Homo sapiens: one gene and its partners. The protein of the gene in region 1 purifies or fractionates together with the protein of each later gene. This does not show direct contact. Each region holds a gene or a part of one and is shown on either strand. Other genes may lie near its edges.

Region 1 (3,335 bases):
ATTTGAGAAGGATTAGCATAATATAGAAAGACTATGTATATGAGTTCCTTAAGACATGGCAGGACCCTTGCCTTTTAATACATATTTGAAAATTATAACCATGTTGTTCAAATCCCAAAATACTCTGGGAGGAGATAGGGGCCAAAAAAAGAAAATAAATCCTTTTTCATGGATGGTAGAATTAGGATGTTTCCAGAACCAGCACTGTGCCCATCGTAGTAGGCACTGAATTTTTTTTTGTAAAAGAACATTAGGATAGCTCCTCAAGAGAGGATGTTGTTTTCCATAATGAACTTCTTCTGGTGCTGCTGTGAGACCTCCAACTCCAGTAGGCCACTGATGTGTTTGAGCTGTTCTGAATATTCTCTTCTCCCCAGGGAGCAGGGGGCTCTTTTAGCATTGACAGTGAGGAGTATGAAGCGATGCCTGTGGAGGTGAAACTGCTCCCCAGGAAGCTGCAGTTCTTCTGTGATCCTAGGAAGAGAGAACAGATGCTCACAAGCCCCACCCAGTGAGCAGCAGAAGACAAGCACTCTGAGACCACACTTTAGGCCACCGGTGGGACCAAAAGGGAACAGGTGCCTCAGCCATCCCAACAGTGTCGTCAGAGGGTCCCCAGGGCATTTTCATGGCAAGTACCCCTCTGCCCCCACTCCAGCAGTGCTTCCCAAAGTGTGCTCTGTCACCTGCTTTGCAATCGGCTTCCATTAGCGCATGTTTTATTTTGGTGTGACGGTTGGCCCTCCTAAACACGGACTTTCCTCAGGCTGGTTCAAGACGGAAAAGGACTTTCTTCTGTTTTCTTCCAAAGTGCAACCACAGTGGAGAGCCCACGGTGGGCTTAGCCTGCCTAGGCCCTTCCATTTCTCTTCTTTGACCGTGCTAGGAATTCCAGGAAAGTGCATTCCTGCCCTGGTGACCTTTTCCTATGTCTAGGCTCCTCCACAGGTGCTGCTATTTTGTGAGCTCCGGCTCCTGTTTAGCTTTTATTTCAGTTCTAACCTCAGTCCAGAAACATATGTGAGGTTGTTTCCCTCTTCAGCCACGGCTACAATACCGGAAAATGCTAGTTTTTATTTATTTTTTTAAGTAGTGCTTCCTAAATGGTTTGCATGAGAGCCACCTGGGGTACATGTTGAAAACTTATTTGGGGTCTACCCCAAACCTAATAACCCAAATTTGGGGATGGGGCCCAGGAATATGCATTTTTAAAAAGTCATCTGCCCTTCCCAGGTGATTCTGTAAGTTGTCCCTCAACTGTACTTGGAGAAATCGTGTTTTAAAGCAGTAGTCCACAAAGTATTCTGCTCATGTGCCCCCAAAAGTATTTTGAAAAATCATGTATACCCTCACCCATCTAAGTTGATATCTAAAATTTTATCTAAGTTGGTATCTAAAATTTTTCATGGGAAGTTAAATAGTTGACAAAGTATGTATTTGCTGGTGTCGTGTAAATATTGGTATTTTAAAATAAAAACTGTTACATCACTATTTTAAACATATCCAGTACAATTTAAATATCACAACAATTTGACACCCTTCATTCATTTATAAAAATAAATGAGCTAGTTCTTTAGTAGTTAAACATTTCAAATTGGCTTTTCTCCTTCTGTATTTCCATACCACTTTTCAGCCAAGAATCCTATCATAATGTAATCTATTATGCCCGACATCTTTTAATCATTCACCCCATTACTTCTTGTCAACAAAAAATATAAATGGAAATTTTTTTTTTAGCTCTTGCTTTAAGTGTTTGTTTGTTATCTCAGTCCAGAACCAATATTATCGTAATTAATTATTGGTATATAATGAAAACGGTATTAATTCTTGGATGATTAAAAGTTTTTTTATTAGAATGTTCTTTATCCTAATTAGTTCATTTATCCAAGAATACATGAATGTGATTTACAGCTGAGATGGGGTTCAACCTCAGCTGTATTCCTTGTTTCTGTATAGATGTAAGCACATAAATTCGATGGAATAGAATTACGTTAACAATGTTTTTACAGTTCTTTGGATTCCTTTGGCATTTTGACAAAGATCACAGTGCTCTATCATCAAGAATTATTAATGATGATCTATCAACTAACAAACAACTTGATTAGATTCTCCTTTAGTCTGTTGAAAGCAGAGAACTGAAATCCACCTGATTTACCATGGCTTTGCCAGCCAGTCATTAGCACCATTTACTTTTACTATCGCTGACATTTTCCTTTGTTCAGTGGCCCTGAGGTTCTTACACTCTAGGGGGCAGTGCACCACAGGAAGATAGATCAATGAGGGAGGATTGCGAGGGGGAAGGGGAGGAAGCAGAGCTGGCAGGCCTTAGCTACAGGCTCTCTCTCAGGCAGATCCCTTTTAAGATACATACACCATGCCCACACATCCCATGGAGAGAGACCAATGCTTTAGTAGATTACAGAACAGCTATGAAAAGTCCATGAATGAAGATCACAAAAAGGAAGGCTTTCTTATTTCATACTGTATTCTTCAGGGTGGTAAAATTTCTGCTTTTGGCAAAAACATAACAGACGGTTCCAAACATCAGCATAAAGATCACTCATCCCATACCACCCACAGGTAGGGAGGAAGGATGCTGTAGTATATGAAAACAAAAGTTTTCACCTGAGCTGAGAGCATTTAGCATATCGTGGTTCTGTAACAATATCAAGGACCAGTGCAGAATCTGGCTTTCTTTTCTGATAGGCTACCAGTGTGTGTTTATGTGTGCTCATTTTGTGGTTCTAATCATAATGGTACATATAATTAGGGAAGGATATGGAAGCCACTTTAGAATCTTATTCATTTTTAAATATAAATATGCCTTGTTTCAAACTTTGTTTTCTTGATTCAGGCTTTCTTTCCTGTGAGGGCTTGGTTTCCTTATTGTTGACTGCTTTGTTCTTTGCCTTGTCCTTCCCTATAAAGCCTGCATGGAAGACGTTTAATAGTGCAACTAAAAGAGAGTCAGCTGAGTGAGGCTTGTCAGCCAAAGCTGGAATGCTGAGCTATCTGGAGGAGATCCTAATAACCCAATTTGGGGATGGGGCCCAGGAATCTGCATTGGGAAGTCGGCCACCCTTCCCAGGTGATTGTTTAGTACAAACTTTTTGACAGATTAATTTCACTCAAATGCAAAGATTAATCCCAGCACTTTGGGAGGCCAAGGAAGGTGGATCACCTGAGGTCAGGAGCTCGAGACCAGCCTGGCCAACGTGGTGAAATCCCATCTCTACTAAAAATACAAAAATTAGCTGGGCATGGTGGCATGTGCCTGTAGTCCCAGCTACTCTGGAGGCTGAGGCAGGAGAATCGCTTGAACCCGGGAGGCAGAG
Region 2 (3,500 bases), on another chromosome or scaffold:
TGTGTCCCTGCTGGGATGTGTTTACTGTGTTTGTGTGTGTCTCTGTGTATGTGTCTGTGTGTGTGTCTGTCCCTGTCGGGATGTATTTACTGTGTGTGTGTGTGTGTGTGTATGTGTTTGTGTCCCTGCCGGGATGTGTTTACTGTGTTTGTGTGTGTCTCTGTGTGTCTGTCTGTGTGTCTGTGTCTGTCCCTGTCGGGATGTATTTACTGTGTGTGTGTGTGTGTGTGTGTGTGTGTGTGTCTGCGTGTGTATGTGTTTGTGTCCCTGCCGGGATGTGTTCACCGTATGCATGTCTATGTCTTTGAGACACACACTCCTAGAGACACACCCCCTCCCACGCTGACTTCCTGGATCCCGGGTCTCGTGCTCAGGAAGTCGGGGATGCCTGTGAAGTGAGCTCTCCGCGGTGCATCCCACAAAGGGTATGGTGGGCTCATCCCACAGTCCACGGGTGTGGACGGCCAGCCTCTGACGGGACCCCCTCTTTCTGTTAGAAAAGATCCGAGGGTCTCCAGACATCACGTGCGTCTTCCTGAACGTGGAGAGGATGGCTGCCCCGACCAAGGTACCACAGGATGTGGCTTGCTGTGTTTGTCCCCGCACTCCACGCGATGAAGGAGGGGACGCCACGGCGTCCGGCCAGGCGGGGGACAGATGGGGACAGATGGGGACACGGTGGGGTTAAGGCATTAGAGACGTCCTCCTTCCTCTCACATTGGCCACCAGGGCCCGGCCTTCCCCCGTGGCTTCTCAGTTGCTCTCTCCTTTTGCAGAAAGAACTGGAAGCCGCCTGGGGCGTGGAGGTGTTTGACCGCTTCACGGTCGTCCTGCACATCTTCCGCTGTAACGCCCGCACGAAGGAGGCCCGGCTTCAGGTGGCCCTGGCGGAGATGCCGCTGCACAGGTATCGTGGGGCCCCTGGGCCGCGCCGAGCGTCACGTCCACTCCCGGAACCCCTCCGTTCTGTAGTCACCTGTAGGGCGTTCTGGGGGTGCGTGAGGAAGAAAAGCACCATGGGGGCCGGGCGCGGTGGCTCACGCCTGTCATCCCAGCACTTTGGGAGGCCGAGGTGGGCGGATCACGAGGTCACGAGATCGAGACCATCCTGGCCAACACGGTGAAACCCCGTCTGTACTAAAAATACAAGAAAAAAATTAGCCGGGCGTGGTGGCGGGCGCCTGAAATCCCAGCTACTCAGGAGGCTGAGGCAGGAGAATGGCGTGAACCCCAGAGGTGGAGCTTGCAGTGAGCCGAGATCACGCCACTGCACTCCAGCCTGGGTGACAGAGCGAGACTCCGTCTAAAAAAAAAAAAAAAGAAGAAAAGCACCGTGTGGGCTCTCTCTCCGGGGCCCGTTGCCCCCACTGCCTGCCCCCGGCTCCCCACTAGGCAGGTCCCCTCGGCCCGGGACACGCGTCACTCACAGTGTGTGAGCTACACGCGGAGCGGGGCCGCAACAGCGGCTCCTCCCTTCGGCCCAGAGGCCCAGCTCAGTGCCCCCTTCACCTTCACCTCGACCTCTGCCGGGAGGGAGACAGCGTCCGCAGAGACCGAGCCACTCCCGTTCCCACACCAGGTCGAACTTGAAAAGGGACGTCGCCCACCTGTACCGAGGAGTCGGCTCGCGCTACATCATGGGGTCAGGTAACTCGGGCCGGGCGCGGCGTCCCAGAGGGTCCTCGGAATGCGGTTGTCAGCGGCAGCCACCCTTCTCAGCCCTGGAAGATTCCAACAGGGTGGGGTCCAGCTGGGGTCTCCGTCTCCTGGTAGCATTTGAGGACATAGGAGACCCTCAGCCCTGGAAGATTCCAACAGGGTGGGGGCTGGCTGGGGGCTCCGTCTGGTAGCATTTGAGGAGATAGGAGATGCTGGTGGTTTTTGGAGGTTTTGCCTAAATCAGTAGCCACAAACTGGGGATTTAAACAGCAGAGATCTATGCTCTCCCCTCCTGGACACCAAAACTCTGAGATCAAGGTGAGGACAGGGCTGCGCTCCCTCCAGGGGCTCCTTCTGCCTCTCCCAGCTCCTGGGGGCTCCAGGCATCCCTGGGTTTGTGGCCGCGTCACTCCAGTCTCTGCCTCCGTCTCCACGTGGCCTCCTCCTCTGTGTCTGTGTCTCCTCTTCTGTCTCTTACAAGGACACATGTCATTGCATTTATGGCCCGCCCTAATCCAGAATCGTCGCATCTCTAGATACTTCAGTTATGACAAACACCTTATTTTCAAATAAGGTCCCATTGACCAGTTCTGGGAATTAGGATGTGGACAGATCTTTTAGGAGGACCACAGTTCAATCCGCTACACTTGTATCCACTTCCCTCTGGAGGCTCTAGGGCAGGGTCCTTCCTGCCTCTCCCAGCTCCTGGGGGCTCCAGGCGTCCCAGGCTTGTGGCCTCGTCACTCCGGTCTCTGCTTCTTAGAAGGACACAGGTCGTTGCCTTAGGGCCCACCCTAACCTAGGGTGATATTTTGAGACCCTACAAAGACCATATTTCCAAATCAGGTCCCATTCCCAGGTTCTGGGACTTCGGATGTGAAAGGGGCCCCACTGAGCCCGCTCACGATGACGTCCTGGGCCGTGTCCCGCTCGGAGGCCTCCGTAGTGATCTGGCCTTTACTTTCTCCCCGAGTCACGGGAAGCCCTCGTTGACCTCACAGGGTGGACACCCGGAGGCGAGATCCCGTTCCGCCGAGCAGAGCCCTTTCTCATGGAACAGGACGTGTCGGGGCCGCTGCTGGGGAAAGCAGCCGGGCCCCCAGATGCTGGAGCGGGAGCAGGCCCCGGGCCCCCGCAGACCCTCCGCGGCACCGCCCGCACTTGTGCCTTTCCCGGCGTGGCTCACCGCCTCACCATCTCGGGTGTCTTTTAGGAGAATCCTTCATGCAGCTGCAGCAGCGTCTCCTGAGAGAGAAGGAGGCCAAGATCAGGAAGGCCTTGGACAGGCTTCGCAAGAAGAGGCACCTGCTCCGCCGGCAGCGGACGAGGCGGGAGTTCCCCGTGATCTCCGTGGTGGGGTACACCAACTGCGGTGAGCACGCGCCCAGGGGAGGGGCCTTCCGCGGTCTCCGTGTCACCGGTGAGGACTCGCCCGGGGGAGGGCAGGGGGTCCCTGTCGTCTCAGTGGTGCCGTACGACAGCTGCGGTGAGCACGTGCCCAGGAGAGGGGGTTCCCATGGTCGCCGTGTGGGGTACACCAGCTGCTGTGAGAGCTCACCCAGGAGACGGGTTTCCTGTGGTCTCTGTGTGGGGTACAGCAGCCAAGGTGAGGATGTCATCTACCCCATCCTCCCATCCAGAGCTTTACCACCCTGTCTATACCACAATCTCCCCTCCATCTACACCATCCTCCTGTCTAGACCATCCCCACTGCCCTATCTATACCACCACCCTGTCTACACAATCCACCCATCTACACCATCACCTCTCCTCTGTCTATACCATCCTCCTGTCTACACCAGCACCACTACCCCATCTATACCACCACCCCGTCTACATAA
Region 3 (4,090 bases), on another chromosome or scaffold:
GGCCTCCCGCATCCGCTCCCCCACAGGTTCCCCAGAGACAGGATGATGGATGGCAATCCGAGTGCAAACCTGGCGCTTGGCCAGCACTCTGGAAGAGGAAGTTCTCAGTTCCCAGGGCACCTGAACCCACAGCCGCCCCCACTCCGCTGGCCCCCCTGGTCCTGGAAGACCTGTTACTAGGCTGCAGAAGGGGTGGCGGAGTGATCAGGGGGCGGGGAAAGAGGCCAAACAAAAGAGGGGAGGAGCAGAGGCCCCAGTGAGGCAGGAGGGAAGCCCCTGCCCAGCGGGAAATTCCTAAATGTCTGGGTCCTTTCCAGAGGGCAGGAATTCCTAGCCTAGAGTGTGAAATAAGGAAGGAAGTGAATCTCCAGTGGGTTCCCTTCACAGCCCCTTTCCATCCTCCCCACATGCCCCACCCCCACATCTCCCAAAACAAACCCTGAGAGACGGTGTGGATGGGGAGACAGGCCTGGAAACGGAGGCCTGCGCTGAATGGGCAAAGCCGGGTTGATGATCCAGACGAGGCCCTGGAGTCTGGGCCTTGGGCCCCTCCCCTTCTGCCTGCTCCGGCAGCCTGTGGGTCCAGCCCCAGCCCCAGAGGGGGAAAGGCTCCAGTGGGAGTCCCATAGGCCTGGCTAGGAACCCCACTCCGCTACTTAAAGTGGTGTGAGCCGGGTCAGCCACTTCACCTTTCCGCATTTACGCATTTCAAGCAAGGCTTGACGACCGGAGGGGCTCAAGGCCCTGTGCACAGCCGCGCGGCCAGCACTCTGGCCAGCCTTGTAGCCCCCTTCCCCTTAGGGGGCCTCCTTCAGGAAGCCCCCGTCCCCTGCCTCCTTGTGGCCACGGTGACACCGGAACACTTCAGAGGGGCGGCTGGGGAGTTGGGGTGGGACGGGCTCTCCCGCAGCTGGAGCCGGTGTGTGACGCGGGAACGCGGCCAAGCGCGCCCCATCCAGGCGGCCTATCAGGAGCCGTCGTCGGACAATGGCTCCGCGCCTGACAACCCCGTCGTCCCCGTGCCGTCCCCCGAACTCCACATACCATGCGACGCGCGGCCAGCCCCCCGCCCCTGCCCGGCTGCTGGGAGGAAGTGACAGCGCCCCGCATCCCCCGCTGGGCAGGCCGGGCGCGCCCAGCCCCTGGGACGCAGGGACACAGCCGGGCCGCGCTGGGCCTTGGCCTCCGCCCGCGGGTTTTCCGCGGTTGCGGCGGGGCGGGGAAGGAGGGGCGGGCGGGGCGGGGCTGACTCTGCGACTATTTCAGGCCTTGCGGAACCCGGGCCAGGACAGTGGCGGCCAGGCCGGGACACGGTAAGTGACCTCCGCTTCCACACGTCCATTCCCCGCCGCTCCGCGCGGCTTCTCGCCCGCCCCTACCCCGAGGCCAGGCCGGATTCCCCGAGGAAAGAGCCTGTCGCCGCGGCGGGGACAGGAGGGGGCTGGACGCTTCCAGGGAAACTGAGGCCCTGGCGCGCCCAGCGTCCGCGCGTCCGGGCGCAGAGGGGCCAAGGCTGGCTGAGGGCCCGGGCCTGCCAGAGGCAGGGAGGGCGGGGCTGGGGCAGGCGCAGGGGTCTCCCCTCCATTACAGCAGAAAGGCCCCAGGTCCGGCGTGACTCCCCGGCCGGGCGACACAGGCCGAGTCACTTCCTCGCCCGTGCCCGGGTGTCCTCATCGGGGGATGGGTGCGCCTTCCACATCCTGCCCAGGACTGAAGGAGCCGGGCCCAGCGAGCTCCCGGGAGGTGTGTGGACATCAGCCCTGACGGGGAAGGCGAGCCAGGTCAGTGGACCTGAGGAGAGGCCGGGCAGCAGGAGGCTGGGGGGCGCTGTTGAGCCACTGGCTGTGACCCCTCTACGAGCCTCCCAGCAGGCCCCTTCCTGCCTCAGTGGGCCCAACCAGCGGCAAGGCTCAAAGGAACGCCCCTCCTCCCCTTCTTCCTTTCTGGCTGCACCGGCTCGCTGCTGCCTGCAGGACAGACTCAGGACACAGGAGACTCACCCCCACTGAGGCCCAGCTAGGCGCCCAGCACTTGGCTGTGCGGTTTGGCCACATCCCCTCAGCAGCACTGTGGGGTGGGGGTCCTCATCCCCTTTTCAAAGACGGGGAAACGGCGGCTTGTGAAGGAAGGAGGTGTGCAGTCCACACACTAGTGAGAAGTGTGCTGAGCCCACACCGAAAGCGTTTCTCTTTCCATGGCACCAGCTGCCTCGGAGAGCGGAGACCTGGGGCGAGGCCCAGGGGGCTGCAGCAGGACCTTCAGGCGCTCTGGGTTTCGTGTCACAGAGGGGAGAAGGCGGTGATGCTGTGGGGGTCCTGCGGGAGCTGTGCCTGGAGGTGGGACAGAGCCTAGTACATGTGGGGTGGGACAGGGAAGGCTGAGGTGAGGCTGGCAGGGAGCATTGCTGGTAAGGGCCACCCTCCCCCACCCCAGGAGAATGGCAGAGGTGGGGCCTGGGCACCCAGGGTGGGGCTGAGTGGCCCTGCCAGACAGACCAGCTCCCGCGGGTGCTAGGCATGCACCTGAGAGGGGCTGGGAAGCGAAGTTGGGGCACCGGGTGGGGAGCAGAGGTGCCCCATGGCCTTGCCCCTGGGGCTCCCTGGAGCATGCCCCTCTTGGTCCTGGAGTGGAATGCTCAACCCAAATGGCACTAGGGAGGCCAGTGCCATCCAGGAGTGTGGGACTCTGCCCAGGGCACTGGGTGAGCATGGCAGGGGCTGGGGGTGGGAGGAGCCCAGGCTTCCTGTCCCTCAGGTGGCTCTGGCCAAGCCCCTCCAGGATGGGGACAGGGTAGTGGGGCTGGTGGAGGCAGCGGGGCCATGGGAAGAGTCGGATGGGCCCAGTCTGAGCCTCCATGGCTGCTGTGCTTGGGGCAAACACCTCCTACTCAGCCTCAGTTTCTCCTTCTGGATGGTGGATCATCCTGCCTGCCTTGCAGGGCTGTTTCAGGGGTCACTTGAAGTTACCATGATACATGAGACAAGGCTGCATGCATTTAGTCTTGGGGTGGGGCAGACAGGTGGCATCAAGGTTACAGGTCACCCCAGTTCTTGGGGAGGCCCAGCCCCTGCCTGCTTCCCCCTTTCAGATCAGCCATGCTCTTCTCCAGTGGACCTGGCCTTGCTCTGACAATGGTCAGGTGCTGGGCAGGGACTCTGGGGAAGCTCGGGTCTTGCCTCTCTGGATGTAGCTTGCAGGATAGCTGGGGATGTGGAGGCAGGGGAAAGCTGGGCTCTGGGACCGGGTGGCCTGAGTTCCAAGCCCAAGCTATTGACTATAGGGACAGTTTAAGCCGAAATAACACCCTTCCAGATGAGAGAAAGGAAGAGATGGGATGGGCACCCAGGAAGGCTGCAGAAACTGGAAGCCTTTGTGATGATGCTACGATCCCATTTGGGAGGGGGTGGGAGCCAGGAAGCCTGGGTTCTGGACCCGAGTTGCTGTGTGACTTCAGGCCGCCCTGTGACTTGCTGAGCCCCTTGCCCCAGTGATGTGTGAAAGGCTGTCTGAGGTCCCACCCACTGTGGCTTCTGTAGATCCTGGTCAGGCTCTGCCCCTTTCATGGCCCAGCTGGAGCAGCTGTGTTTCTGTGACCCCACCGCTGGATCAGAACTGGACAAGATGGCAGAGGGGCTGGGTCTGGGCAGGAGGAGGCTGGGTTCCAGTCTCAGGCCGGTTCTGGTGTTCTAGACCCCGGCATGTCCCAGACCTTTCTGGACCTCTGTTCCTGCTCTGTCCAAAGGGACAGAGCCCATGCCCCGCCTCTTCCCTAGGGTCCCGTGGGATCCAGGGAGGTGTCCATTGCCTGCTTCCTGCCCAGAGGGTGGGCTGGCAGGGAAGGATTTGCCCAAGTAAAGTGAAAGTCCCCCTCTGTGTGGCGGGCTTGGCGTCCCCAGCCTCTTCCTTGCTTCTGGGGCTGTGAAGTATTGGAAGGGGAGCTGTAGATGGTGAGATGCTCGTGGCCAGGGAGGAAGCACAGTTGTTGGTGCTCATCTGGGCCAGGAGATGAGCAGAGCCCCGGTGGCTGAATGGGTGAAACAGACTGAGTGTACTCAATGCAGCCAGCATAGCTGTGTGTCCAGCCTGGGAG
Region 4 (2,867 bases), on another chromosome or scaffold:
ACACTTTTTTTGAAGCAAAGGAAGGGCACAAGTTGCCAGTTCCAGGATATAATTGAAGTCAGCAACTAAGTCTTCCTTCAAAGTTGTGATTTTTGGGAAAATCATATATCCTATCTTCTCAAAGGAGAAATATTGTACAATAATATGAAGGCTTATATTTTAAATAATTATTTTTTCTCAACTAATTTTTTTCACTTAAACTTGAGAGAACAAGTTCAGCTTTTATCATAAGAAACTCATATGCCTAGCTAGAATATATGACTGACTATTCAATACCATACTGAAGAGTTTGATACTATTAAAATAAGCCGCTTTGTTTTTTAAATATGCAGGCATGGGTTCAGCTTAATTCCATAATTCCCTTCCAGATTATTAACTCTTCATACTTACAGCAATGAATCTGACAATGTTTTTCAAAAATGTATGCTCAGGGTTATTTGTTTCAAGTCATAGGCCAGAACTTCTAACCATGTTTATTGTGTCTAAAAGAGTTGGTTGCTATTTTCCTTCATTATGAATAGTCAGTATTTTAAAAGCTCAAAGTAGAAGAGGAGTCACTAAGCCCTAACAGCTTGTCCAAAGATTTAAATTCTTATTTCAAATTTGATTTGTCCTTTAAGGTTTAGGGCTATTTTATATTCAGAGTTCTGAATAATTACTTTGAAACTGTAGTATCATAAAATTGAAATAAAATACATCTACTAGGCTGTTAGCCAAAGCATCACCATTACAAGTCCATGAATGTTAAAATGTACAGGTGGGATTGTGAAGATTTACTGACATCAAAAGTTCTTCTGGAAACAAACCTTTGTTAAAAAAAAAAAGTATTAAATTGTTTTAATAGTGATTTATTTGTCATCAAATGTACAACTTATTCTAAATATTTTCATTTTCTGTGTTCTAAATAGAAATATTAAGTTGCAGTAAAAAGAGAAAAAAAGGCTATTTAGCATTACAAAGAATCATATTTAAAGGCTGCCCAATGTAGAGTCTAGTGACCTGTTCAGGACACCTGAAATATAATTAAATGACAATTATCAAGGTTTTAACAATTTATAATTCTAAACCAGAGGATTATAAAGAAGTGCAAATTGACTTTTACATTCAACTTTAGTTAAATGAAGGCACTCAGTATTCTTCCTGAATAATACATTCAGTTTCTCACATTTTATGCTTTCATCTATTCAGAATTATTTCATAGTAAAATAATCTACTCTTATCACAGCTGTGTGACGATTTCTAAATGTAGGAAGGCCTGTGAAACATGACACTGCAGTTAAATTGGTTGGCCTAAGGACTAAGTAATTTTTCTTCTGCTGAAGTTTTAAGTGAGTATTTGTTCCAAACAAGTTCTGTTGAAATCTCACGCTGTTGTCAGGAATCAGTGTTATCCTGGAACTGTTATTCTATTTAATCTTCATTATAGCAGAAATGTGCCACCATGGCTTTGACATGTTGGTAGGTATTGTCTTCCAGGCTTCAAAGCTGCACAGAGTCTACGTTTTAGAGAGTTGGCACCTTTGATGTGGTAGTGAGCTGATCATCCACTTTCTTCTAAAATAAAGAGAAGAAAATGGCCAGTATTCATCCTGTCCTTCTCTTTCCCCATTCCTTGATAACTCTCTTGTCTTTACTGGGAAGCTGGAGAGTCACAGTCTAGTAGAAGAAAGGTAAGAATGTGCTTCTTCCATAGGGGAGGGTATAAGGGGAATAAATAAGTTTTGATAGTTCATTGGTGACCATTAAATAGTAAATACATGGGATTAGTAGTGCTGAAAATAGGAAAAATTCAGACCTATTTGGAGGACTAACGGTAAATGGGTCTACTGGTACCGGTTAACAAGTATTAACTGCATATGAAAAACAAATGCCTGATTTCAGTGCTACTCCTATTGCTCATCTATTTTGTTAGCATTAATATTTCTATACCATAAACTACTGTATTCCCAAGCCTTACTATTTACAGATGAGAAAATCACAAAGAATGACTCTCATTAGTGAACAATGGTTCAGCACAATTTGAATGATTCAGGGGAACTCATATTTCAAAGTGTCAGACTCAGATGGCCCTTAGAAAATTTAAATACTAAATATGTAAAGTGATAATTATACTGAAATTATATGGAATATGGAATTAAGTTGTATAAGTTGAAGTCTTTACCTCAGTCACCATCATTTTGAGCTCCTTTGTGCTGGTGAGCATCAATTTCTTCATAAATAGCTCTGAAACAAAGCCATCACAGCAAAAGGGTTATGTATCAATTTCAAAGTGCTATTTTGGTTTTTAACTGCCAGCACTGTAATTAAAAATTGAGCTGGTTTTGGAGTTCAGGCTACATATGAGTAAAAATAAGTCTCTGCCCTGAAGTGTGTATTCTAGTTTATTTAAATTCTAATGTTGCACTTCATTTTTTCTTTTTTTTTGAGACAGAGTCTCACTCTTTTGTCCAGGCTGGAGTGCAATGGTGCTTTCTTGGCTCACTGCAACCTCTGCCTCCCAGGTTCAAGTGATTCTCCTGCCTCAGCCCCACGAGTAGCTGGGATTACAGGGACACACAACCATGCCCAGCTAATTTTTTTGTATTTTAAGTAGAGACAGGGTTTCACCCTGTTGGCCAGGCTGGTTTCAAACTCCTGACCTCAGGTGATCCACCCGCCTCGGCCTCCCAAAGTGCTGGGATTACAGGTGTGAGCCACCACACCCGGCCTTATTGTTGCAATTCCTATGTCTCTTAAAAGTATGTATTTCATAGAACCAATTAATTTTTTCTTGTGATTGAAATGAGAAATATGACTCAAATTTGGACAGTTTATGTTTTGCTTAAAAAACTCCTCAGTTTCTTCTGGTTTCAAACTTTTTAAAAAAA
Region 5 (3,500 bases), on another chromosome or scaffold:
CTAGAAATATCATTTGACCCAGCCATCCCATTACTGGGTATATACCCAAAGGACTATAAATCATGCTGCTATAAAGACACATGCACATGTATGTTTATTGTGGCACTATTCACAATAGCAAAGACTTGGAACCAAGCCAAATGTCCAACAATGATAGACTGGATTAAGAAAATGTGGCACATTTACACCATGGAATACTATGCAGCCATAAAAGATGAGTTCATGTCTTTTGTAGGGACATGGATGAAATTGGAAATCATCATTCTCAGTAAACTATCACAAGAACAAAAAACCAAACACCGCATATTCTCACTCATAGGTGGGAATTGAACAGTGAGAACACATGGACACAGGAAGGGGAACATCACACTCTGGGGACTGTTGTGGGGTGGGGGGAGGGGGAGGGATGGCATTGGGAGATATACCTAATGCTAGATGACGAGTTAGTGGGTGCAGCGCACCAGCAAGGCACATGTATACATATGTAACTAACCTGCACATTGTGCACATGTACCCTAAAACTTAAAGTATAATAATAAAAAAAAAAGACTCAAAGGCACAGTCACTGACAGTTTGATTTTTTATAATAGCTGTTAATTTTCCTAACTTCGAGGAAGTTGATAGCATGTTTTGAGTATATTTCAAAACTACATTCAAATGTTGCAATAGAACATTAAGAATTATCTTCATGATCCACTAAGTGCATGAAAAAAATGGATAATGAATCTATTCATTACCATCGTTTAATATTTTATCTTCAAGTTTTTGTGTTTTGTAGCTCATTGGCAGAGTTTGACAGAGTGCTGAAAGTATTCTTTAGTGAGCTGGCTGTAATTTTTGGGCCCATTTTTATCTAGATAATTAAAACTATCTGACAGGACCATAAAATGCTTGCTGCCATTTCCAACAACCTATATTTGTGGATGGGGTTTTTTAATTTAATGAGAATATTATGTTAGAAAAGAAACTGTCATTCTGTAAAGTGGCCAATAATGTTAGTTTTATTTATCAATTTAGTTTTGTACTTTGATCATTTTTTTAAAATTTCAGCATTGATGTTGATGGGACAATGACAGTGGACTGGAATGAATGGAGAGACTACTTCTTATTTAATCCTGTTACAGACATTGAGGAAATTATCCGTTTCTGGAAACATTCTACAGTAAGTCTACTTTATGTATTTATACTTATTTGGAGCTATAAACCATAGGTACAGTTATCACCCAAGAACACTCTGTAACACTTATGGGCCAGGATACCTGAGTCCCAGTAGCTCCTTAACCTGTAGAGTTCTATTTATTCTATTAGGCATAGATTTATAGAGTATTAAACAAAAAAAAACAGCTCTCCCTCTCCCTCTCCCTCTCTCTCCCCCTCCCCACGGTCTCCCTCTCCCTCTCTTTCCACGGTCTCCCTCTGATGCCGAGCCAAAGCTGGACTGTACTGCTGCCATCTCGGCTCACTGCAACCTCCCTGCCTGATTCTCCTGCCTCAGCCTGCCGAGTGCCTGCGATTGCAGGCGCGCACCGCCACGCCTGACTGTTTTTCGTATTTTTTTGGTGGAGACGGGGTTTCGCTATGTTGGCCGGGCTGGTCTCCAGCTCCTGACCGCGAGTGATCCACCAGCCTCGGCCTCCCGAGGTGCTGGGATTGCAGACGGAGTCTCGTTCACTCAGTGCTCAATGGTGCCCAGGCTGGGGTGCAGTGGCATGATCTCGGCTCGCTACAACCTCCACCTCCCAGCCGCCTGCCTTGGCCTCCCAAAGTGCCAAGATTGCAGCCTCTGCCCAGCCGCCACCCCGTCTGGGAAGTGAGGAGCGTCTCTGCCTGGCCGCCCATCGTCTGGGATATGAGGAGCCCCTCTGCCTGGCTGCCCAGTCTGGAAAGTGAGGAGTGTCTCTGCCCGGCCGCCATCCTGTCTAGGAAGTGAGCGTCTCTGCCCGGCCGCCCATCGTCTGGGATGTGAGGAGCCCCTCTGCCTGGCTGCCCAGTCTGGAAAGTGAGGAGCGCCTCTTCCCGGCCGCCATCCCATCTAGGAAGTGAGGAGCGTCTCTGCCCGGCCGCCCATCGTCTGAGATGTGGGGAGCGCCTCTGCCCCGCCGCCCCGTCTGGGATGTGAGGAGCGCCTCTGCTCGGCCGCCCCGTCTGAGAAGTGAGGAGACCCTCCGCCCGGCAGCCGCCCCGTCTGGGAAGTGAGGAGCGTCTCCGCCCGGCAGCCACCCTGTCCGGGAGGGAGGTGGAGGGGTCAGCCCCCCGCCCGGCCAGCCACCCCATCCGGGAGGTGAGGGGTGCCTCTGCCCGGCCGCCCCTACAGGGAAGTGAGGAGCCCCTCTGCCCGGCCACCACCCCATCTGGGAGGTGTACCCAACAGCTCATTGAGAACGGGCCATGATGACAATGGCGGTTTTGTGGAATAGAAAAAGGGGAAAGGTGGGGAAAAGATTGAGAAATCGGATGGTTGCTGTGTCTGTGTAGAAAGAGGTAGACATGGGAGACTTTTCATTTTGTTCTGTACTAAGAAAAATTCTTCTGCCTTGGGATCCTGTTGATCTATGACCTTACCCCCAACCCTGTGCTCTCTGAAACATGTGCTGTGTCCACTCAGGGTTAAATGGATTAAGGGCGGTGCAAGATGTGCTTTGCTAAACAGATGCTTGAAGGCAGCAGGCTCGTTAAGAGTCATCACCACTCCCTAATCTCAAGTACCCAGGGACACAAACACTGCGGAAGGCCGCAGGGTCCTCTGCCTAGGAAAACCAGAGACCTTTGTTCACTTGTTTATCTGCTGACCTTCCCTCCACTATTGTCCTGTGACCCTGCCAAATCCCCCTCTGCGAGAAACACCCAAGAATGATCAATTAAAAAAAAAAAAAAAAAAACAACCCAAGACTGCATAAATGTCCATTCTGAAAACTTGGAAGAAGTACCACCTTGATGAATAAGCTGTCTAGCTTTTATTGGCATTTAAGTATTCTGCCATAGGGAAGTGTAAAAGTTGTAGGCTTTTACTTTTTATAGGTACTATATTGTCCAAATAATCTCAGCACCTCATGGTTGCTAAGGATCTGTGTCCTTGTTTGGTCAGATTATGTTTATCTCTGGCATAAGGCACTTAACAATATTCATTAAAGGTTACAGAATCTTTTTGCTTCATCTGCTTAGCATTTCATACCAGTTTGTTTTCCACCAAACTTTCAAATTTTGATTGTTTCATTAATATTCTGCATACTGATGTAAACCAAGTTCTATTATTGTGCAATCTGCTCCTGAAACCCTTAGGAACTCTCTGAAGGAGTTTTATTTATTTTTTGTTTTTGTTTTTGTTTTTGTTTTGTTTTTTTGAGACGGAGTCTTGCTCTGTTGCCCAGGCTAGAGTGCAGTGGTGCGATCTCGGCTCTCTGCAAACTCGGCCTCCGGGGTTCACGCCATTCTCCTGCCTCAGCCACCGGAGTAGCTGGGACTACAGGCACCCACCACTGCGCCTGGCTAATTTTTTTTGT
Region 6 (3,959 bases), on another chromosome or scaffold:
AGGAAGCGGAGGCTGCAGTGAACCGAGATCGTGCCAATGCATTCCAGCCTGGGTGACAGAGTGAGACTGTCTCAAAGAAAGAAAAGAGAAGAGAGTACAAAAGTTTCCTTCTTGGCCTGGCACAATGACTCAAGCCTGTAATCCCAAGACTTTGGGAGGCCAAGGCGGGCAGATCACCTGAGGTCAGGAGTTCGAGACCAGCCTGGACAACATGGCGAAACCCCATCTCTACTAAAAATACAAAATTTAGCCAGGCGTGGTGGCGGGCACCTGTAATCCCAGCTACTCGGGAGGCTGAGGCAGGAGAATCGCTTGAACCCAGGAGGTGGAGGTTGCAGTGAGCCGAGATCGCACCACTGCACTCCAGCCTGGGCGACAAGAGCAAAACTCTGTCTCAATAACAACAACAAAAAAAACCTTCTAAAATCCCAGTCAAATGTTAAACCAGACCTGGTAAAACAAAACTTTGTACGTCAGTGAGACACCATCGCCACCTTGTGTTCAACAGCCTTCATTACATCCACATTTATTGCAAATGATCACCCGTGGGATTCTCAACAATTACAGAATATAGCTTTATTTATAGAATCTTACAAATAAAACATTTACAGTCCACATAAGTTAATTTTCTTTTCTAATTTCTTCTCATACACCTGAGTTATTTAAAAAAATACTGTGATGGAACTGCAGAACTGTAAAGGGAAATAAGAACAATAAAATCCTAACCTCTCTTGCAAAAATCAGACAACTTTGTTTTAAAGTAGATGCCCAGCATATTGCCATCTCTTTGGAAGAGGACTTACTATACTCAGCTCTTACGCTACCCAAACAGAGAAGCCTTCTTTTTAAAACCCAAGGTTAAGGACCAGTGAAGAATAGCTCCAATTTGACACTAGACACAAAATACCTTTGGGGGCAAAGACAGGGGCAAGCTGTGTGCCGGTGGTGAAGTGAGAAGGAGCAGAACCCCTGTCCCTGCCTCACTGTTCCTGCACGTGACATACACTTTCCTTGCTAACTTATTAATAGGAGCTGGTGCATCTGGAAAATGAGGTCGAAGCTGCTAATGCCAGGGGTGAAAAAGTCCTCCCACTGACTTGCTACTCCTTAGACTTCTAATATGTACAAATGCTTGAAACAGCAAATTCAACAACTAAAAATCAAAAGAAATTGCCAATTTTTGACTCATGAGGCAAAGCTGTTGCCACAATCAGTGGCGACTCAAGTCAGACGATGTGAGCGTCTCCGCCCCTCCTAAGCTCCGACTAGGACTGACCTCTGCGCCAACTACGGTTTAAAGAGGATTTCCCTTTGAGGCAGCTGTCTATGGAAGGAAATTTCTTAAGGTAATATAGGTGTGCACAAAAAGGGAAAACACCCTATTTCATTTTTCAATTTGTTAAAGATTATAGTTTTGAGCTCCTCTCCTAAACTAGAAATCCACTAACTCTAACTTAGTATTCTACTCCAAGACAAAGGGTATTATGTTTAAGGAATGATAGGATCTATTGGGAATGCTAAAATTATAAATTTAATACATCAATGCGAGTTAGGTTAAAGCAAAATCTTCCAGAGTCTTCAACTTTGAGTTATTTTCTGCTAGCTCCTGAAAGCAGCTTGAGAAAAATAAAACAGAAAAGACAAAGAACCGTTTAAAAACAACAATAATAATGACAATATAAAAAGTTAGATTCCAACATTCAAGGAATTGGTTCTTTGGTAAAACTGGACCATAATCCCACCAGGAAATCAGTCCTGATATTTAATCTAGAATCTCCATCACTGAAATTTTCCCTCTTCAGCGTATTCTCAAATGTATTGAAGCCAACAGGCAAGATAAAAACAAAACTTAAAAAAAGTATCACCAGCAGTTTTTCCTGCTCACGTTCTTTTCAAGAATATTCCTGGTTTGACAGATGTCTCCCAAGAAGAGAAAACAAAACGGATGCTGCTTGTGATTACTGAGAGCGGACAGTTTTTCTATGTAAGAGAAAAGCTCAGGCATTGGTAGTGAACCAGTACTCCTGTCAGCCATGCACATGAATCAGTTTGCAAACATGGCCCCTGGGCTCCAACTGTGGGCACCACTAAGAAAGGCTTCTGGAGAGACAGGCTCCCCAAAGTGGCTAAAGAATCTCACATTATCAATATGATAATAATAAATCAATTCACCTAGTGAACCTGGAGAAGAGCTCCCCTTGAAGCCAGAGCTCGGAGGCAAGGGCTCCACAGTGGCTAAGGCTGGCCTACAGTTTTAAAGACAAGTTATCTCCATCCATTTTCTGGAGAGAGTTAGAGAAATTCATATTCAATTCAATGCAGGATTCGACTTTTTTTGCAAGGAAGCAGTAACCTAGACGGGTCATTTAAAACCCATCTGTAGCATAATCATTAGGCCAACCATTCTGCAAACATCTGCGATGCCCTAAGTGAAGTTTGTGCCCTTACATTTCAGAGACCCCCTATTAGTCATGCTTTGATTTATGGAAGCGGCAAATCCTAAATTTTGCCTGCACTGATTCCATTTCTGATTACCCTTGTCTAAGTAGAGCATAAATGGCACCCCATTTCTACAAGTCAGCTTGCCACTCTGCAGACGTCTCAACCTGGGGGAGGATAGTTTGTGCAGTCTCCCCTCTAACACAGAGGTCTCAAATGTGCTCAGAATGTGCTTCTAGGAGGCAGCTACAAAGTCTCTTAGAAGATGGCAGTGGGGAAGAGGAGGTCAAAATCACAGCCAAACCAACTGTTTTCTTGCAGACAGCCTGAGCCTCCATTCTGTCAGCGTTAACCTGAAAGAGGAGGTCCAGGCAGCCACACCGCCACGTTAGCTCACTCGGACAGCCGTGAAACACCAGGTGCTGTTACAAAATCAATATCCAGCATCTCAGTAGGAACAAGTGAGCATCCTGACAAGACACACAGCAGTGGTTCGACTTCCTCTCCCATTCAGGATGAACCTTGCCTCACCTCTCACCCTGCTCATGTGTTCTGACTTCAGGTTCTCTTTGAGAGAAGTAATAGGCAATTAAACAGACTTTGAAAAAATGGGAAGGCTTCCTGTCTCCTGTCTCTTCTATTGGCCAGCTGGAGGTCCAAGGTGCCCAGCTAGAGTCATGGGCCCCACACTATGGATTCAACTCTTGATATTTCTAGCCAAGTTATAACCATTGGCTCTATTTTTGCATTGTTGGGTAAAGGATTCAAAACCTTTCAGCACTGGTTCCAAGAGGAGGCCAAGGTAATCAGAGAAAAAAGTCAGGCTTGTCTTGTAAGCTGCATTCAGGTTCCAGAGTCACTGAGAGAAAAGGAGGTGAGGAGAGGGCAAGAGGCACTAGCTAGAGACTGGTTACCAGGGCAGCTTATTCCTAGGATACAGCATTTTACAAACGGCTGACATTTGAATGCAGGAATACAGTCTGTGTCAGTTTTTCATAGAACGGCCTCTTCCGTGGTGCATTGTGGATGGTAAGTCCTCGGGCTGGCGATCGGGCAGCCCAGGGCCCGACTTCCAGTCCCACAGGCTCTTGGCAGAGCCCTACCCAATCTGGATCTGTCCTGAATACATGGTGAGGACCACCATGATGGTGAATCCAGTCAGGAGGCCCAGGTTCTGGATGATAAATGGAATCAAGATGCTGCCCTTCCTTTCATCCTCTTGACAGACCTCATTCATCTCAGGGAACTGGGAAAGAAGCAAGAAACAACACAGCTGCAATTCCTTCTTCATCTTGTAAGTCCAGGGCAATTCAGTGATGGAGATATAGATCAGGTTGGTTGACAAAGAAAATTATCAGGGCCAGGTGCAGCGGCTCACTAGAGGTCAGGAGTTCGAGACCAGCCTGACCAACATGGTGAAACCCTGTCTCTACTAAAAACATAAAAATTAGCTGGGCGTGGTGGCGCAGGCCTGTAGTCCCAGCTACTTGGGAGGCTGAGGCAGGAGAATTGCTTGAACC
Region 7 (3,500 bases), on another chromosome or scaffold:
CCAACAGCCACAGTTATGTGAGCCAATTCGCTAATTCCTTGTGATAAATCAATTTCTATATTTTATCAATATTATATTACGTCAGCATTATATATATTTAGGCCAGGAGTGGTGCATGCCTGTAATCCCAGCACTTAGGGAGGATGAGATGGGAGGATTCCTTGAGCCCAGGAGTTTGAGATTACAGTGAGCTATGATTGCACCACTCCACTCTACCCTGGGCAACCAGCTGAGACCCTGCCTAAAAAAAGAAGAAAAAATTATAAAATCTATATAGATAGATCAACATATATTTATAACATATAAAGTTATATATTTATATATGATTTTATATAGCTATATGAATTATTTATGTTTATATATTATTTTTATATGTTATATTTAAACGTAATTCATGTCTATATAAATAAATGTATATATAAATTTATATATTATAAATATATGTTGCTATATCTATAAATTTAAAAAATTATATATTTATATAGTTATATAATTTATATATTTAGAAAATATATATTATAGTATACAAATATATTTTAGAAATATATAAAATATGTATATGTGTGTGTCATAGCCAGGTGCAGTGGCACACACCTGTAATCCTGGCACTTTGGGAGGCCAAGGCAGGCAGATTGCTTGAGCTCAGGAGTTAGAGGAACTCCATGTTGCCCCATGTTATGTTTTGGTATCTACCTGTCTGTCTGTCTGTAATCTACTGATTCTGCTTCTCTGGTTGAACCTTGACTGATAAAATGTTCCTCTTATACCTATTGCTTAGCAGACCTTAACATTCCGCTTCTTTGAAAGATTCTCTCCTGTTGGTCTCTCCTCTGAGTGCACGTGGGTTCATTTGAGCCCTACCTCTTCTTGCCTGGATTACTGGGGTTCTCGTCCAGCTGGTCTCCCTGCATCCCGTGAGGTCCATCCACATCCTGTTTATTCTCATGACTACCCAGTTTGTTCTTAGTAAACTACATATCTGATCTTGTCACTCTTCTTCTTAAAGTCTTTCAATGACTCCCTGAAGCTTTCAGGCAAACATTTAAAAGCGTCAGCTTTTTTTGTATGACTCCATTTTCTCTCCTCTCTTAGCATATCAATTATACTTCTTTTGAAAACCTTTTTAGTGGTTGCCCAGGAGTCTGCAATGTACATTTATGACTAATCCAAATCCACTTTCAAATAACACTATACCACTGCATGGAGTGTGCAAGTACCTTAGAATGGAGTCCTCCCAATTCTCCCCTCCTGTCCTTGATATTACTGCTGTCATGGATTTCTCTGATCCATAAACTGTAATCACCAAATACATTGTTGCTACTATTGTTTTAAACAAACGTATCTGTTTGTTAACTGTTAACAGTTCAGAATAAGAGAAATAAAGATTTTTATTTGTTTGTTTGTTAGTGTTTTTTCCCAGACAGGGTCTCACTCTGTCGTGCAGGCTGGAGTGCAGTGGCACGATCACAGTTCACTGCAGGCTTAGCCTTAGCCTCCCAGACTCAAGCAGTCCCCGCACCTCAGCCTCCCAAGTAGCTGGGACCACAGGCACATGCAACCACGCCTGGCTATGTTTTTTTCTTTTTTAATTTTTATAGAGACAGGGTCTCACTCTGTTGCCCAGACTGGTCTCAAACTCCTGGGCTCAAGCGATGCTCCTGCCTTGGCCTGCCAAAGTGCTGGGATTATAGGTGTGAACCATCCCACCTGACCAGAAGAACTTCTTTTAACATCTTGTAAGTCAGGTCTGCCAGTGACAAATTTCCTGTTTTGTTTGTCCAAGAAAGTCCTTTTTTTTTTTTTTTTTTTTTTTTGAGACAGGGTCTTACTCTGTCACCCAGGCTGGAGTGCAGTGGCTTGATCTTGGCTCACTGCAGCCTCCGCCTCCTGGGCTCAAGCATTCCTCCCACATCAGCCTCCCCAGTAGCTGGGACTGCAGGTGTGCACCACCACACCTGGCTAATTTTTCTATTTTTTGGTAGAAAAAAAAATACAAAATGAGGTTTCACCATGTTGGCCAGGCTGGTCTCAAACTTTTGACCTCAGGTGGTCCACCGGCCTTGGCCTCCAAAGTGCTGAGATTACAGATGTGAGCTACCATGCCTGGCCGACTAGAAAGTTTTGTTTTTTTTTTTTGACAGAGTCTCACTCTGTCACCCAGGCTTGAGTGCAGTGGCGTGATCTCGGCTCACTGCAACCTCTGCTGCCCAGGTACAAGCGATTCTCCTGCCTCAGCCTCCCGAATTGCTGAGATAACGGGCACCTGCCACTGCGCCCGGCTAATTTTTGTATTTTTAGTAGAGATGGGGTTTCACCGTCTTGGTCAGGCTGGTCTCAAACTCCCGACCTCAGGTGATCCAACCGCCTCGGCCTCCCAAAGTGTTGGGATTACAGGTGTGAGCCACTGCGCCTGGCCCCAACTAGAAATGTTTTAAGGGATATAAAGCAGTTAGTACTTGAGATGATTCTTCTGTAAGATATGGGATAGGTGGAAATGGGTAACGACTAACAGAATCAGATGGTATGCATCCCCAAATAGTAATTCCAATGATCTAGGAAGACCAACATTCCCACACCATCCCTACCACCACAGACTCAGTGTTTCTCAATGAGAGACAGAATTTGTGTATGGAGGATCTGAGTCCAAGCCCTTCTATTAGTATAATTGCATTAATATTATTTGTTTCTTTTTTTTGTTTTAACTTTTACTTTAGATTCAGGGGTACACGTGCAGGTTTGTTACATAGGTAAACTTGTGTCACTGGGGTTGTACAGATTGTTTCATCACCCAGCTACTAAGTTTAGTACCCATTAGTTATTTTTTCTGATCCTCTCCCTCCTCCCACCCTTCACCCTCAAGTGAGCCCCAGTGGGGTCTGTTGCTCCCGTTTTTGTGTCCATGTGTTCTTATCATTTAGCTCCCACTTTTAAGTGAGATATTTGGTTTTCTTACTTATAAATGTGATATTTGGTTTTCTGTTCCTGCATTAGTTTGCTAAGGATAATGGCCTCCATCTTCATCCATGTCCCTGCAAAGGACGTGATCTCGTTCTTTTTTGTGGCTGCATAGTATTCCATGGTGTACATATACCACATTTTCTTTATCCAGTCTGCCATGGATGGGCCTTTTGCATTTGGACAATTTCTACTGACACGTGTTCAGGCTCACTGATTCTTTCCCTGGCCATGTCCAGTCTACTGATGAGTCCATCCAAGACTTTCTTCATCTTTGTTACAGTATTTTTGATTTCCAACATTTCCTTTTGATTCTTTCTTAAGAGTTTCCGGCTGGACGTGGTGGCTCACGCCTGTAATCCCAGCACTTTGGGAGGCCGAGGTGGGCGGATCACGAGGTCAGGAGATCGAGACCATCCTGGCTAACATGGTGAAACCCCATCTCTACTAAAAATACAAAAAATAGCTGGGCATGGTGGTGCACGCCTGTAGTCTCAGCTACTTGGGAGGCTGAGGCAGGAGAACCACTTGAACACGGGAGGCAG

Evidence for each region.
Region 2: the proteins of AGK (region 1) and GTPBP6 purify together in Homo sapiens (affinity purification with mass spectrometry, with the first as the bait; one large-scale study listed by BioGRID). This does not show direct contact.
Region 3: the proteins of AGK (region 1) and TNFAIP2 purify together in Homo sapiens (affinity purification with mass spectrometry; one large-scale study listed by BioGRID and IntAct). This does not show direct contact.
Region 4: the proteins of AGK (region 1) and COX11 purify together in Homo sapiens (affinity purification with mass spectrometry; one large-scale study listed by BioGRID and IntAct). This does not show direct contact.
Region 5: the proteins of AGK (region 1) and SLC25A24 purify together in Homo sapiens (affinity purification with mass spectrometry, with the first as the bait; one large-scale study listed by BioGRID). This does not show direct contact.
Region 6: the proteins of AGK (region 1) and SLC39A14 purify together in Homo sapiens (affinity purification with mass spectrometry, with the first as the bait; one large-scale study listed by BioGRID). This does not show direct contact.
Region 7: the proteins of AGK (region 1) and SFXN2 purify together in Homo sapiens (affinity purification with mass spectrometry, with the first as the bait; one large-scale study listed by BioGRID). This does not show direct contact.

What each region holds. Positions count from the first base shown.
Region 1 is NC_000007.14:141,652,410-141,655,744, forward strand, and holds the end of AGK (acylglycerol kinase, mitochondrial isoform 1 precursor), read left to right. Parts: intron 1-377; coding exon 378-515; 3' UTR 516-2,835; downstream 2,836-3,335. UniProt on the Homo sapiens protein: Lipid kinase that can phosphorylate both monoacylglycerol and diacylglycerol to form lysophosphatidic acid (LPA) and phosphatidic acid (PA), respectively. Does not phosphorylate sphingosine. Phosphorylates ceramide.
Region 2 is NC_000023.11:312,297-315,796, reverse strand, and holds part of GTPBP6 (putative GTP-binding protein 6), read left to right. Parts: intron 1-497; coding exon 498-568; intron 569-776; coding exon 777-907; intron 908-1,579; coding exon 1,580-1,647; intron 1,648-2,872; coding exon 2,873-3,031; coding exon of another isoform or gene 3,032-3,265; intron 3,266-3,500.
Region 3 is NC_000014.9:103,122,171-103,126,260, forward strand, and holds the start of TNFAIP2 (tumor necrosis factor alpha-induced protein 2), read left to right. Parts: upstream 1-1,290; 5' UTR 1,291-1,781; intron 1,782-2,204; exon of another isoform or gene 2,205-2,336; intron 2,337-4,090. UniProt on the Homo sapiens protein: May play a role as a mediator of inflammation and angiogenesis.
Region 4 is NC_000017.11:54,959,922-54,962,788, reverse strand, and holds the end of COX11 (cytochrome c oxidase assembly protein COX11, mitochondrial), read left to right. Parts: coding exon 1-56; 3' UTR 57-1,462; coding exon of another isoform or gene 1,463-1,524; 3' UTR 1,525-2,162; coding exon of another isoform or gene 2,163-2,223; 3' UTR 2,224-2,367; downstream 2,368-2,867. Other genes in the region: TOM1L1 (TOM1-like protein 1), read right to left, coding at 2,163-2,223. UniProt on the Homo sapiens protein: Exerts its effect at some terminal stage of cytochrome c oxidase synthesis, probably by being involved in the insertion of the copper B into subunit I.
Region 5 is NC_000001.11:108,158,844-108,162,343, reverse strand, and holds part of SLC25A24 (mitochondrial adenyl nucleotide antiporter SLC25A24), read left to right. Parts: intron 1-1,050; coding exon 1,051-1,162; intron 1,163-3,500. UniProt on the Homo sapiens protein: Electroneutral antiporter that mediates the transport of adenyl nucleotides through the inner mitochondrial membrane. Originally identified as an ATP-magnesium/inorganic phosphate antiporter, it also acts as a broad specificity adenyl nucleotide antiporter.
Region 6 is NC_000008.11:22,419,278-22,423,236, reverse strand, and holds the end of SLC39A14 (metal cation symporter ZIP14 isoform a precursor), read right to left. Parts: intron 3,686-3,959; coding exon 3,539-3,685; 3' UTR 501-3,538; downstream 1-500. UniProt on the Homo sapiens protein: Electroneutral transporter of the plasma membrane mediating the cellular uptake of the divalent metal cations zinc, manganese and iron that are important for tissue homeostasis, metabolism, development and immunity.
Region 7 is NC_000010.11:102,721,136-102,724,635, forward strand, and holds part of SFXN2 (sideroflexin-2), read left to right. Parts: intron 1-3,500. UniProt on the Homo sapiens protein: Mitochondrial amino-acid transporter that mediates transport of serine into mitochondria. Involved in mitochondrial iron homeostasis by regulating heme biosynthesis.